2 separate regions of the Homo sapiens genome follow, and region 2 is linked to region 1. The links come from fine-mapping of genetic effects on gene expression. A gene starts in region 1. The other region holds a variant in brackets. All regions are shown on one strand. Distances are from middle to middle. Region 1 holds the start of GSTM3 (glutathione S-transferase mu 3). Region 2 holds the start of GSTM1 (glutathione S-transferase mu 1).

What was found. PIP is the estimated chance that this variant, and not a neighbour inherited with it, causes the effect.
Region 2: its variant is the best candidate, but not a certain one, in a credible set for the expression of GSTM3 in lymphoblastoid cells (GEUVADIS, PIP 0.88).

Annotation. Positions count from the first base shown.
Region 1 is chr1:109,737,851-109,743,224 of GRCh38, reverse strand. It overlaps GSTM3 (glutathione S-transferase mu 3), which reads left to right and starts at 2,187. Exons shown (of 9, transcript NM_000849.5): 1 at 2,187-2,272; 2 at 2,714-2,985; 3 at 3,317-3,392; 4 at 3,732-3,796; 5 at 4,859-4,940; 6 at 5,034-5,134. The coding sequence starts at 2,938. RefSeq lists a silencer at 2,748-2,977.
Region 2 is chr1:109,684,331-109,689,704 of GRCh38, reverse strand. It overlaps GSTM1 (glutathione S-transferase mu 1), which reads right to left and starts at 1,888. Exons shown (of 8, transcript NM_000561.4): 1 at 1,796-1,888; 2 at 1,460-1,535; 3 at 968-1,032; 4 at 576-657; 5 at 380-480. The coding sequence starts at 1,831. RefSeq lists an enhancer at 1,789-1,838. The variant G/A (reference allele first, on the strand shown) is at 2,226.

The sequences.
Region 1 (5,374 bases):
ACTATTCACAATAGCAAAGACTTGGAACCAACCCAAATGTCCAACAACGATAGACTGGATTAAGAAAACATGGCACATATACACCATGGAATACTATCCAGCCATAAAAAATGATGAGTTCATGTCCTTTGTAGGGACATGGATGAAACTGGAAACCATCATTCTCAGCAAACTATCGCAAGGACAAAAAACCAAACACCGCATGTTCTCACTCATAGGTGGGAACTGAACAATGAGAACACATGGACACAGGAAGGGGAACATCACACTCCAGGGACTGTTGTGGGGTGGGGGGAGGGGGGAGGGATAGCATTAGGAGATATACCTAGTGTTAAATGAGGAGTTAATGGGTGCAGCACACCAACATGGCACATGTATACATATGTAACAAACCTGCACATTGTGCACATATACCCTGAAACTTAAAGTGTAATAATAATAAAATTTAAAAAAAAGAAAGTAATGCAAAAACTGCAAAAAAAAAAAAAGAAAAAGAAAAGAAAATGGGCATAACACCTACTTCCTAAAGTTGTTGTGAAGCTTAAATTGGAATAAATTAGCTAACATACGTAAACACTTAGATATTGCCTGGCATATGATAGGTGCTCAATAAATGTTAATCTTATACCTCAGGTGAATTTGTGACTGGCCTTTTGCTTTCTTGGGAGGAGAGACACAGGCATTATAAATTTCACCTGTCCATGTGGTTTGTACTCTTCCTTTCTTCTGTTTAGCAAAATGCCCTTTTAAAAAGTCCCAACCTTGCTTCAGTTGAACTGATGGGCAAATGTGATTTCCCACACCTGAGCTAGGGGATCTAGGCTCTCAGACTGCCCTGAGAGCTGTGCTGCAGAGGCCTGGCCAGAACCCTCAGAGCAGCTCCGGACTCCTTCCTCTGTCACTCCTCCACATTCAACTAGAATCCTATGTCTCCCGAGTTGACCCTGTTGCAAATCTGTGCCCCTTTTCATTTGCATGGGCCCTGCCGAAATTCAGAAGCTTAGTTCTTCCCATGACTATAGGGGCCTCGGGCAGGTCTCTTGCTCTGTCAAGGTCAAAACCCCTACTTTCCTAAATTCAACCATTGATTCTCCATCTTCATCTTACTTGATCAGCCACACTTGACATAGTTGATCACTTCTCCCTTTAAACATCTTCACATGGCTTCTGGGACCTTTTGTTTTCCTCCTACCTCCCTGGCCACTCCTTTTCAGACTCCTTTGCTGGTTTGCTCTCATTTTTCCCTAACCTTTACATGTTGATATGCCAGAGCACCTCAAACCCTTAGACCTCATCTCTGCTACTCGTGCTCCCATGGTGATCTCATCTAGTCTCTGGTTTCAAACACAGAGTGATCACTCCTGTACTTGCTGTTTCCCTTTTCCTGGAGTTCTCTCTGCCTCCTGCAGGTAGGAAGTGATTCGAGATAAGAGAGGGAGAGAACTCTTCTGGCCAGGATAGAGGGTGATTCTGAGAAGGCTTCAAGGAAGAAGTGAGCATTTGAGCACGGCTACTTGAGGAAGGCTAGGCCATGGACATTAGGGTGCAGGCAGGAGCAGAGCAAACATGCTTGTAAAAGGAACAGCAATTATTCTGTTTTATATTTATATCAGCCCATGGTGGCCCCCACAGCAGAGTGGCTTGATCTCTCACCTCCTTCAGGTCTTTGTTTAAAGATTAACTTCTCCATGAGGCCTTCTATGAACATAACCTTTAAAAACATAAATCCCCTTCCTACTGGGACTCCCCCAGTTCCCACCCTGAGACCCCCTATCTCTCTTCTCGATTTTATTTCTCTCCATAGGATGTGTATCACCACCTGACTTACTAGCTATTTACTATATATTAGTTTATTTCTTCCCCATTAGAATGTAAACTTCCTGAGGGCAGGGATTTTGTCTGTTGAGTTCAGTTCTGTATCCCCAGCACCTAAAACAGTGCCTGTCCATAACAGGCATGTTAAACATTGTTGGACAGATGAATGAGTGAATGAAAAATGGTAGTACCTTTCCTCCTCCAGTCCATCCTACACAAAGAGGCAAGATTAATTTCCCTAAATGCGTGAGCATTAGGAAGTGGGAGGGATTGGAGGAGGAAATTATAATAAGGAATCCATAAATTACTTAAGCCCATAAAACAAAGGTAGGAAACATTCAAGATAAGAGACCTCTTCTGGCCAGGATAGAGGTTGGTTCTGAGAAGGCTTCAAGGAATAGGCAGACATTTCAGCAAGGCTGCTGAGGAAGGATAGGCTGTGGAAATTAGGATGCAGGTAGGAGGATCACAGAGCAAACACTCCAAGGTGGGAAATGCAAGTGTGTGTAGAAGGAACAGCAAGTATTGTTGGGTTGGGCTGGCTTATGAAGTTGTGACGGGCTGAGGGAGAGACAGGACTGGAAAAGCACGTTGGGGTCAGGTTGCAGAGGTCCTTGACTGACAGAGAGGGGAGCTTGGTCTGTGGGGAATCTTCTGCTCTGTGTGGTCAGAGGCTGGTCTGACTCTCCGGCCTTGCCCCAGTCTTCCTATCCTTCATCCAGCCCCGGCTGGCTCGGTAAAAACGGCGCGAATCTCGCTCTCCCTGGGTAACTAGGGTCCCCACTGCCTGGCTAGTGGTGCTTTTCGCGTCTTCACTGGCACCATTAATGAATGAAGTCTGGCTCCCACCCGCGGGGAAGGGAGGAGCCTCAACCTCGGGTCCTTTGCTCTCCTGCAGCACTCCTGCCCGGGTCCCGCCTCGGGGTCGCCAGGCCCTGAACCCCAACGCCGGCATTAGTCGCGCCTGCGCACGGCCCTGTGGAGCCGCGGAGGCAAGGGACGGAGAACGGGGCGGAGGCGGAGTCAGGGCGCCCGCGCGTGGGCCCCGCCCCCTTATGTCGGGTATAAAGCCCCTCCCGCTCACAGTTTCCCTAGTCCTCGAAGGCTCGGAAGCCCGTCACCATGTCGTGCGAGTCGTCTATGGTTCTCGGGTACTGGGATATTCGTGGGGTGAGTGCCGTCTCAACGGTAGAGCCGCTCGGTCAAAGAGACTGACGCGGAGAGGGCGGGTCTCTGGGTCCGCGATCTCCAGCAGGAGCAGCTCTACGCGGGAGCCTTTTCGAGCTGCCGAGCCACGGATGTCGACCCCTGCCCAGCCTCTGGGATCGCGGGCCCTGTGGGGAGGGGCGGAGGAGACCACGCCGGAGCCGGGCCTAGGGGCCGCTTAACCACCGCCCCGGCAGGACGCAGGGACTCGGCAGCCCCGGGCCGGGGAACGTTAGCGGGCGGGGGTTGGGAATGGGTGGGAGCTGCGCAGTCGCTGAACCGCTGTCTTCCCCAGCTGGCGCACGCCATCCGCCTGCTCCTGGAGTTCACGGATACCTCTTATGAGGAGAAACGGTACACGTGCGGGGAAGGTAATGCCGCTCCGCGTGCCCGTGCAGCCAAGCTGGCCCTCCACCTGCCCTGGTCTTCTTACGCCCAGAGGGTGGTGGCGTCGCGCCAAGGCCGGGTGGGACGTTTGCCCCAATCTGGGTGAATAGAGACACATCCTTTATCTGGAACTGGGGGTTCTCTTTTTAACATAGCCCAAACCCGTCTTAATGCTTAACCAAATAGGGCTCAGAGGCTCAATGGTTATGCTTTTGGGGCCTGGGAATTTGAGGTATTGGGACCAAGTCATTTCTTTAGATCTTTTGCTCTTGTCAGGTGGGGTATTAAGGAGGTTGGGTCCCACTTAATTCCGTCTCTTACAGCTCCTGACTATGATCGAAGCCAATGGCTGGATGTGAAATTCAAGCTAGACCTGGACTTTCCTAATGTAAGTGGCTTTAGTAGAGGTGGCGGGCAGAAGGGAAAGCCTTCAAGTATATCCATCCTTGCCTCTCTCCTGCCTGGTACAGAAGGATGCAAAATAGGGGATCTTAACCCGGATAGAATAAATAGAATTCAGGGGTCCTTGAACTGGATGGATATGTATTTTCATTCCCATTAACCACTAGCAAAAGTTATTTCCTTTTATTGTGAAGAGAGACAATAAGTGACATTGGTTATTAGCCATGTCTGTCACTTTGTCACTAGTAGAAATCAGGTATTTTCTTTTTTGTGTGTTTCTTGTTCTTTTGTTTTGAGACAGTGTCTCACTCTGTCGCTCAGGCTGGAGTGCAGTGGCGCAATCACAGCTCACTGCAGCCTCAACCTCCCAGGCTCAAGCAGTCCTCCCACCTCAGCCTCCCAAGGAGCTGGGACTACAGGCACACACCACTATGCCCAGCTAATTTTTGTATTTTTGTAAGAGACGGGGTTTTGCCATGTTACCCAGGCTGATCCTGAACTTCTGGGCTCAAACAGTCCTCCCACCTCGGCCTTCCAAAGTGTTGGGATTACAGGCATGAGCCACTGTGCCCAGCCTGAAATCAGGTAGTTTCATATTCTATAACATGCGTTGCAGATATTTTAAGTGATATTTATATACATGTAAGTAAATATATACATATAATGTTATTTACTTTGAGATTATGTTAGTCATTACATCTGCTTGCTATTTAATGCACTAATAGGCACATGTTACTCTTATTTGAATTTTTAAAAATATTTTTTGATTGTGTAAATTATCTATTTTGCTTCATGCATTTAACAACTTTATTCTGAGAAAAGGTCCATGGCATGCACATACACTCACACATACACACACCAATTTAAGAACCCCTGTCTAGAATCTTGTGGACCCAGTTGCTACCTTCTACTTATTTTCTTTTTTCTCCTAACACAGCATCTTCTCACTCTTGTTCACTGCCCTGCAAGTGTTCTTTTCCCCTGGAGAGAGAGGTAGGGAATCAAGAGAGAGGCAGGTTGTTCATTTGTCCTGTCCTTTTCCTTTCAGCTGCCCTACCTCCTGGATGGGAAGAACAAGATCACCCAGAGCAATGCCATCTTGCGCTACATCGCTCGCAAGCACAACATGTGTGAGTGGGGTAGGGCTGGTGAGGGACCCCAGGCTGGTAGTTTGTCTGAGAGTGGATGATGCCAAGGGTGATTTGTTGTCATTTGGCCTACAGGTGGTGAGACTGAAGAAGAAAAGATTCGAGTGGACATCATAGAGAACCAAGTAATGGATTTCCGCACACAACTGATAAGGCTCTGTTACAGCTCTGACCACGTGAGTTTCCTTAGCACACATCTGCTGAATGGAGTATCAGAAAAAGGGGTATTTAGGAACCCAAGGGTTATCTCTGTTCCATTCTGCTGCTGCTACCTTCCCACCAATCCAGATTGTTAGAATAAGAAACAGAACTTATATTTTTTGGTTTGTTTTGTCATGTAATTCTGGTGCTGGTGCCTCTTCTTTCTAAACTCCTCTTTCCCCACCCTGCCATCCTCAAGTGAAGGCAATGAGAAC
Region 2 (5,374 bases), 54 kb after region 1:
GAGGGTGCCATTACATTCCTGAGTCTTCTACTTGAGTCTGCATATTCTAGGAGCAGGCAGGTGATGTGAACTGGCTGACAGAAATGACCCAGGACAGAAGTCAGAGGCCAGAGCTGATGAAGGAGATTCTGAACACAAACTTTACCATACAGGAACTGAATTTCTACCCTGGGATGCCTGGATCGTGTCCTAAGGTTGGTGGGAATTGCCTCTGCTTTTGTTGACATGACATTGGAGTCGTGAGAATAACTGCTGATAGTATGGGAAAGCACTTGGAGGATGAATGGTACCAGGGACTTAAGACCAGTGTGTGCAGGAATGCAAGAGTCCTGGCCCCAAATCCAAACTCTGTCAGATGCAGCTCACTGGGGACACTCACAAATTCTGGATTGTAGCAGATCATGCCCAGCTGCATATGGTTGTCCATGGTCTGGTTCTCCAAAATGTCCACACGAATCTTCTCCTCTTCTGTCTCCCCACCTGCCACCCACAAAACACAGACTCAATCTCAGCATCACAGCCCAGCCAAGGAGGAGGCCACCTTCCCCCCACACATTGCAGCCACCCACACTCACACAGGTTGTGCTTGCGGGCAATGTAGCACAAGATGGCGTTGCTCTGGGTGATCTTGTGAGCCCCATCAATCAAGTAGGGCAGCTGGATGGATGGGAAACCGGCGAAGCTCAGTTGGGCCACCAGGCTCCCCAGCATCCCCTTCCCATAAGCAAGAGCAGAGAGGAGACCGGGCACTCACTGTGCCTGCTCATGGCAGGACTGAAATAAGAATACTGTCACATGAACGAATGCAGGTGGACACAGAACATCATGGAAGGACTGTTTAGACAGCCAGGAGTGAGAGGAATTGGGCAGAAGACTCCTGATCTTAACACCTCTAAGCTGGGGAGAGGAGATGCAGTCAGAGACACGTTGCACTTTCCCCCAAAACCGCCCCTTCCCCTGCACCTACATTGGGAAAGTCCAGGCCCAGCTTGAATTTTTCATTCAGCCACTGGCTTCTGTCATAATCAGGAGCTGTGGTGGGGAAGAAGAAGTGAAAACAAACCTCCCCAGAGCCCAGCCCTCCTTCCCGGGGACCCTCCCACGGAGCCAGTGGCAAGATCCCTGAGACAGGTGGATCTAGAATCTGACCACTCAGTCCCACATCCCAGGGTTCAGGGACAAAGAATCCCGCTGAGGGCTCTGGACCCCACACAGCTAAGGCTTCCAGGGTTTAGGCAAGCCCTGAGGGACACCCGTCCCAATTAGACAGGGGGCCCAGCATCCCACCCCAGCATTCTGCCTTGCAAGGCCAGAGGGCTCCCTCACCGGGGCTCAGGGAAGAGACAGCCTGCAGCTCCAGCAGGGGAGGCCTGCAGAGGCAGCCACAGGTGGCCACCATGGGTTGCTTGGTGCCAACTTAGCGTGAGTGGGCAGAGCCCGAACACGAGGGTGCCATTACCGTCCCCCATCGTGTACTTCTTTTCCTCATAGCTTGAGTCTGTGTATTCCAGGAGCAGGCGGATGGCGTGGGCCAGCTGGGAGAGATGGCCCGCAGGTCGCGTCAGAGATGGAGGGTCCCTGACTTTGTCTGCACCAGGGAAGCCCCCAGTTTACACTGCACGTACCCGTTGCCTCCTCTACCCGCCCACACCCCCAACACACACACAGCGGCATGCACAGGCCCTTCTGAGGCGGGCAGCCCTGAAGAGGAACGGTCCCTAGAGTCCGTCCCGCAGCTGCTTCGCACTTCCCTCCCCTGCGCCCTCGTCCCACCGTCCAGCGGACCCTCGCTCACCCCGCGGATGTCCCAGTACCCCAGTATCATGGGCATGGTGCTGGTTGGTGCGGATTCCGCAGACAGGCCTAAACCGAGCAGGGCTCAGAGTATAAGAGCTCCGGAGAGGGGACAGGCGGGGCCTTGCTGCGACCCCGCCCCTCGGCCCGCCACAACCCGAAAGGCGCCATTCTGGAGGCCCGGGAGAGGGCGCCTGGGGCTGCACTCAGTAAGACTTCCTCCCGCCTCCCAGGCCCGAGGGTTCCGGGAGCGAAGTCAGGGCGCCCAGAAGCCCAAGGCGGGGCTCGGCCTCGCCAGCTTCCCTACCCAGCCCTGAGGCTCCACGAGTCCATCCAGCCCTTGCTAGGTCCACAGCGACTTGGCTGTGCGCTTGAGACACCAGCCAGATCCTAACGGAGCAAAGCTCTTCTCCCTTCTCCTCCCTGCCCGC[G/A]GTGTCCCTCAGCCTTCTCTCCGCTGCCGAGTTCCCAAGGGCTCTGGGAGACTCCGGCTGCAGGGGTCAGACTAAAAAGTGGTGGCCCCAACCTGGGAATTTAATTCAGCCCCTGTCACTGTAAGAGCAGGACTTCCTCTGATCCGAAAGCTACTCCCAGGGCTTAGTCTCCCCTCTAGCCCCGCCTACACAGGAACAGTGTCAGTGGTATAGGAAGGACCCCCAGGAAAAGGGCCAGAGTAAAGGAAATGTGGTCTGTGTTTTCTGTTAGGGGCCCTCGGGTACTGAGTCCTTCGGTCATCTGGCTAAGTACTGTGTAAATTAGCCACTTCGTATTTTGGCACAATTTATGAATCGAAATCCAAGGATCAGATCCAGCAAGTTGGTGAGGTATCTGAGGTGCCCCCTAGAAATGTCCAGCCAGTCCACTAGGTGAACCTCACAGAGACCGGAACAGCAACAGCAACAGTGAGTGCAGTGGCCACAGAGAGCAGGCGAGGGAGGATGGAAGAACTTCCCGGACCAAACTGAGGGTCCGGCTGCTATTTCTCTAGGCCCAATAACGAGATGCAGATCAAATGGGGAGGAAGAGAGGTTTTATTTCTGCAACCGGTAACAGGGAGAAGGCCTAGAAATTACCACCAGACCAACTCAATATTACAAAGTTTTCCAGAGCATATATACCTTCTAAGGTATATGTCTACAAGTAAGTGTGCATTCATCTAAAGACATAAGTGATTAACTTCTTTAATCTGTAACTGAGGTCTGGGTCCTGAGGACCTTATTCTGGAGCCTCAGTCTATTTATTTAATCTAAATGGGTCCAGGTGCGGGGGATGATTACCCTTATCTTGTCTCCTGCTAAATCACGGAGGTTTGGGGAGTTCCTTCAGACGCCCAATAAACTTGTTTGTGGAGGCCTGGGGAGTTTCTTCAGACTCACAATAAAACTTGTTTAATTCTAAATAGGTCCTGTTAAGAATTCCTTCATTGTTTTGTCATGCTTTAAGGCCCAGGAAAGGCCTAAGCAAAACTCTTGGTGGGCTTTTGTTACATCCAGCCTCTGTATAAAGGTACTGGCTTTTTTCAGCTTTTAATATTTAACTTCACCACTCAGTCAGTACTGAAACAGTTGTTATGGAGGCCTGTGTTAGTGACGCCTGGCCTGCCACAGAACCTGTCCCTCAGAGAAGCCAGAACCCTGTCCTGCTGAGGAGGGAGGTCAGAGGATGGTGGCCAGAGAGGAGCCTGAGGGCTCCCCACAGGACCACAGGCAGGGACCCTCCCCTCTCCAGATCCACCATTCCGGACCTGGACCTGGCTCCTGACCCATGTGTGTTCTTCAGTATGAGACGGTGGCTCCAGTGGCCTTTGAAGTCACACCGTGATATGTGACCCATGGTACAACCTCCACGAGAACAATGTCCAACCTGCCAACTTTCTTCTTTCAAGGTAGAAGGAAGACTTTCAAAAGAGTTGTGCAATGGATTAGCCTGGGGTTGACTGCTTTAAAGGATATTGCAAATAATAATGGACATATGGAAATAGATGATAGACCTTTAATGAGAAATCATTTTGCAATGTAAACCAGGCTGTTGTGCTGCAAAAAAAGTAGTTTTTTTGTTTTGTTTTGTTTTGTTTTGTTTTGTTTTGTTTTTTGTAAATTAGCTAAAACATTGTTAGGACTCCAGAGGATGAACCCAGTATATCAAAAAAGTTTCAAACCACCTGGATAATGTGTGGTTTGGGGTTGAGTAAACAGGTAGACTTCATCACATCCCTATTAGGCCACAGAAATCAGGTGGTCAGCAGGTGGCTGCTAAGTTGGGGCACTTGGACACTGTGTCACTGAGGCTGGCAAGGCACAGTCCTTGTTGCAAACACTCCCCGCCCATCCAGACCTGGGCAGTACTCCCAGCTCAGATACCTGGCAGGTATCCATGTTTAGGAAGCAGTTTTGGCCTCACAGTGAACTCTTACATAGATTTTCCTGCATTGAGGCAATAGCACCAGCACAGACACAAGTGCCTGGCCCTAGGAAACATTATATTTCTCATTATGCATTAAGAGTTTATGATTCTGAGTTAATCCGTCTTGAGCTGTGAAAGATAAGATGTCTAGATCCAATTGAAAAAAAAAACGATTTTTTAAGAAAGCTAACACTCATGAGAATAATAATTTTGAAACACATAGAACCAGTACTGTTACATTAGTATTGTTTGAAATACTTGTTCCTTGGTGCCATAAAGAAATAGCACTTGAACATAAATTTAATTTCCTCAGCAAGGCTATTGGGGAACCTGCCCCCAATATTTCAACGTAGGTTCTTTCTATTTTCCATAAGTGTCAGCCAGCTGAGAAATAAAGAGAAAGAGTACAAAGAGAAGAATTTTACAGCTGGGCCGCCAGGGGTGACATCACATATCGGTAGGACCATGATGCCTGCCCGAGCCTCAAAACCAGCAAGTTTTTATTAAGGATTGCAAAAGGGGTGGTGGTGTACGAACAGAGGGTAGGTACGAAGATCACATGCTTTAAAGGGCAAAAAGCAGAACAAAGATCACATGCTTCTGAGGAAACAGGACAAAGGCAAAAGTAGAACTCCTGATAAGGGTCTATGTTCAGTGGTGCACATATTGTCTTGATAAACATCTTAAACAACAGAACACAGGGTTCAAGAGCAGAGAACCAGTCTGACCACAAATTTGCCAGGGCCAGGTTTTTTCCCCACCTGAGGGTACTGCAGGAGACCGGGGTGTATTTCAGTCCTTATCTCAACTGCATAGGACAGTCATTCATTCCCAAAGCGGCTGTTTATAGACCTCCCCCCAGGAATGCATTCCTTTCCCAGAGTATTAATATTAATATTCCCTGCTAGGAAAAGAATTTAGCAATATCTTCCCTACTTGCATGTCCATTTATAGGCTCTCTGCAAGAAGAAAAACATGGCTCTATTTTGCCCGACCCTGCGGACAGTCAGACCTTATGGTTGTCTTCTCTTGTTCCCTAAAAATCGCTGTTATTCTGTTCTTTTTCAAGGTGCACTGATTTCATATTGTTCAAACACACATGTTTTACAATCAATTTGTACAGTTAACACAATTATCACAGTGGTCCTGAGGTGACCTATATCCTCAGCTTAAGAAGATA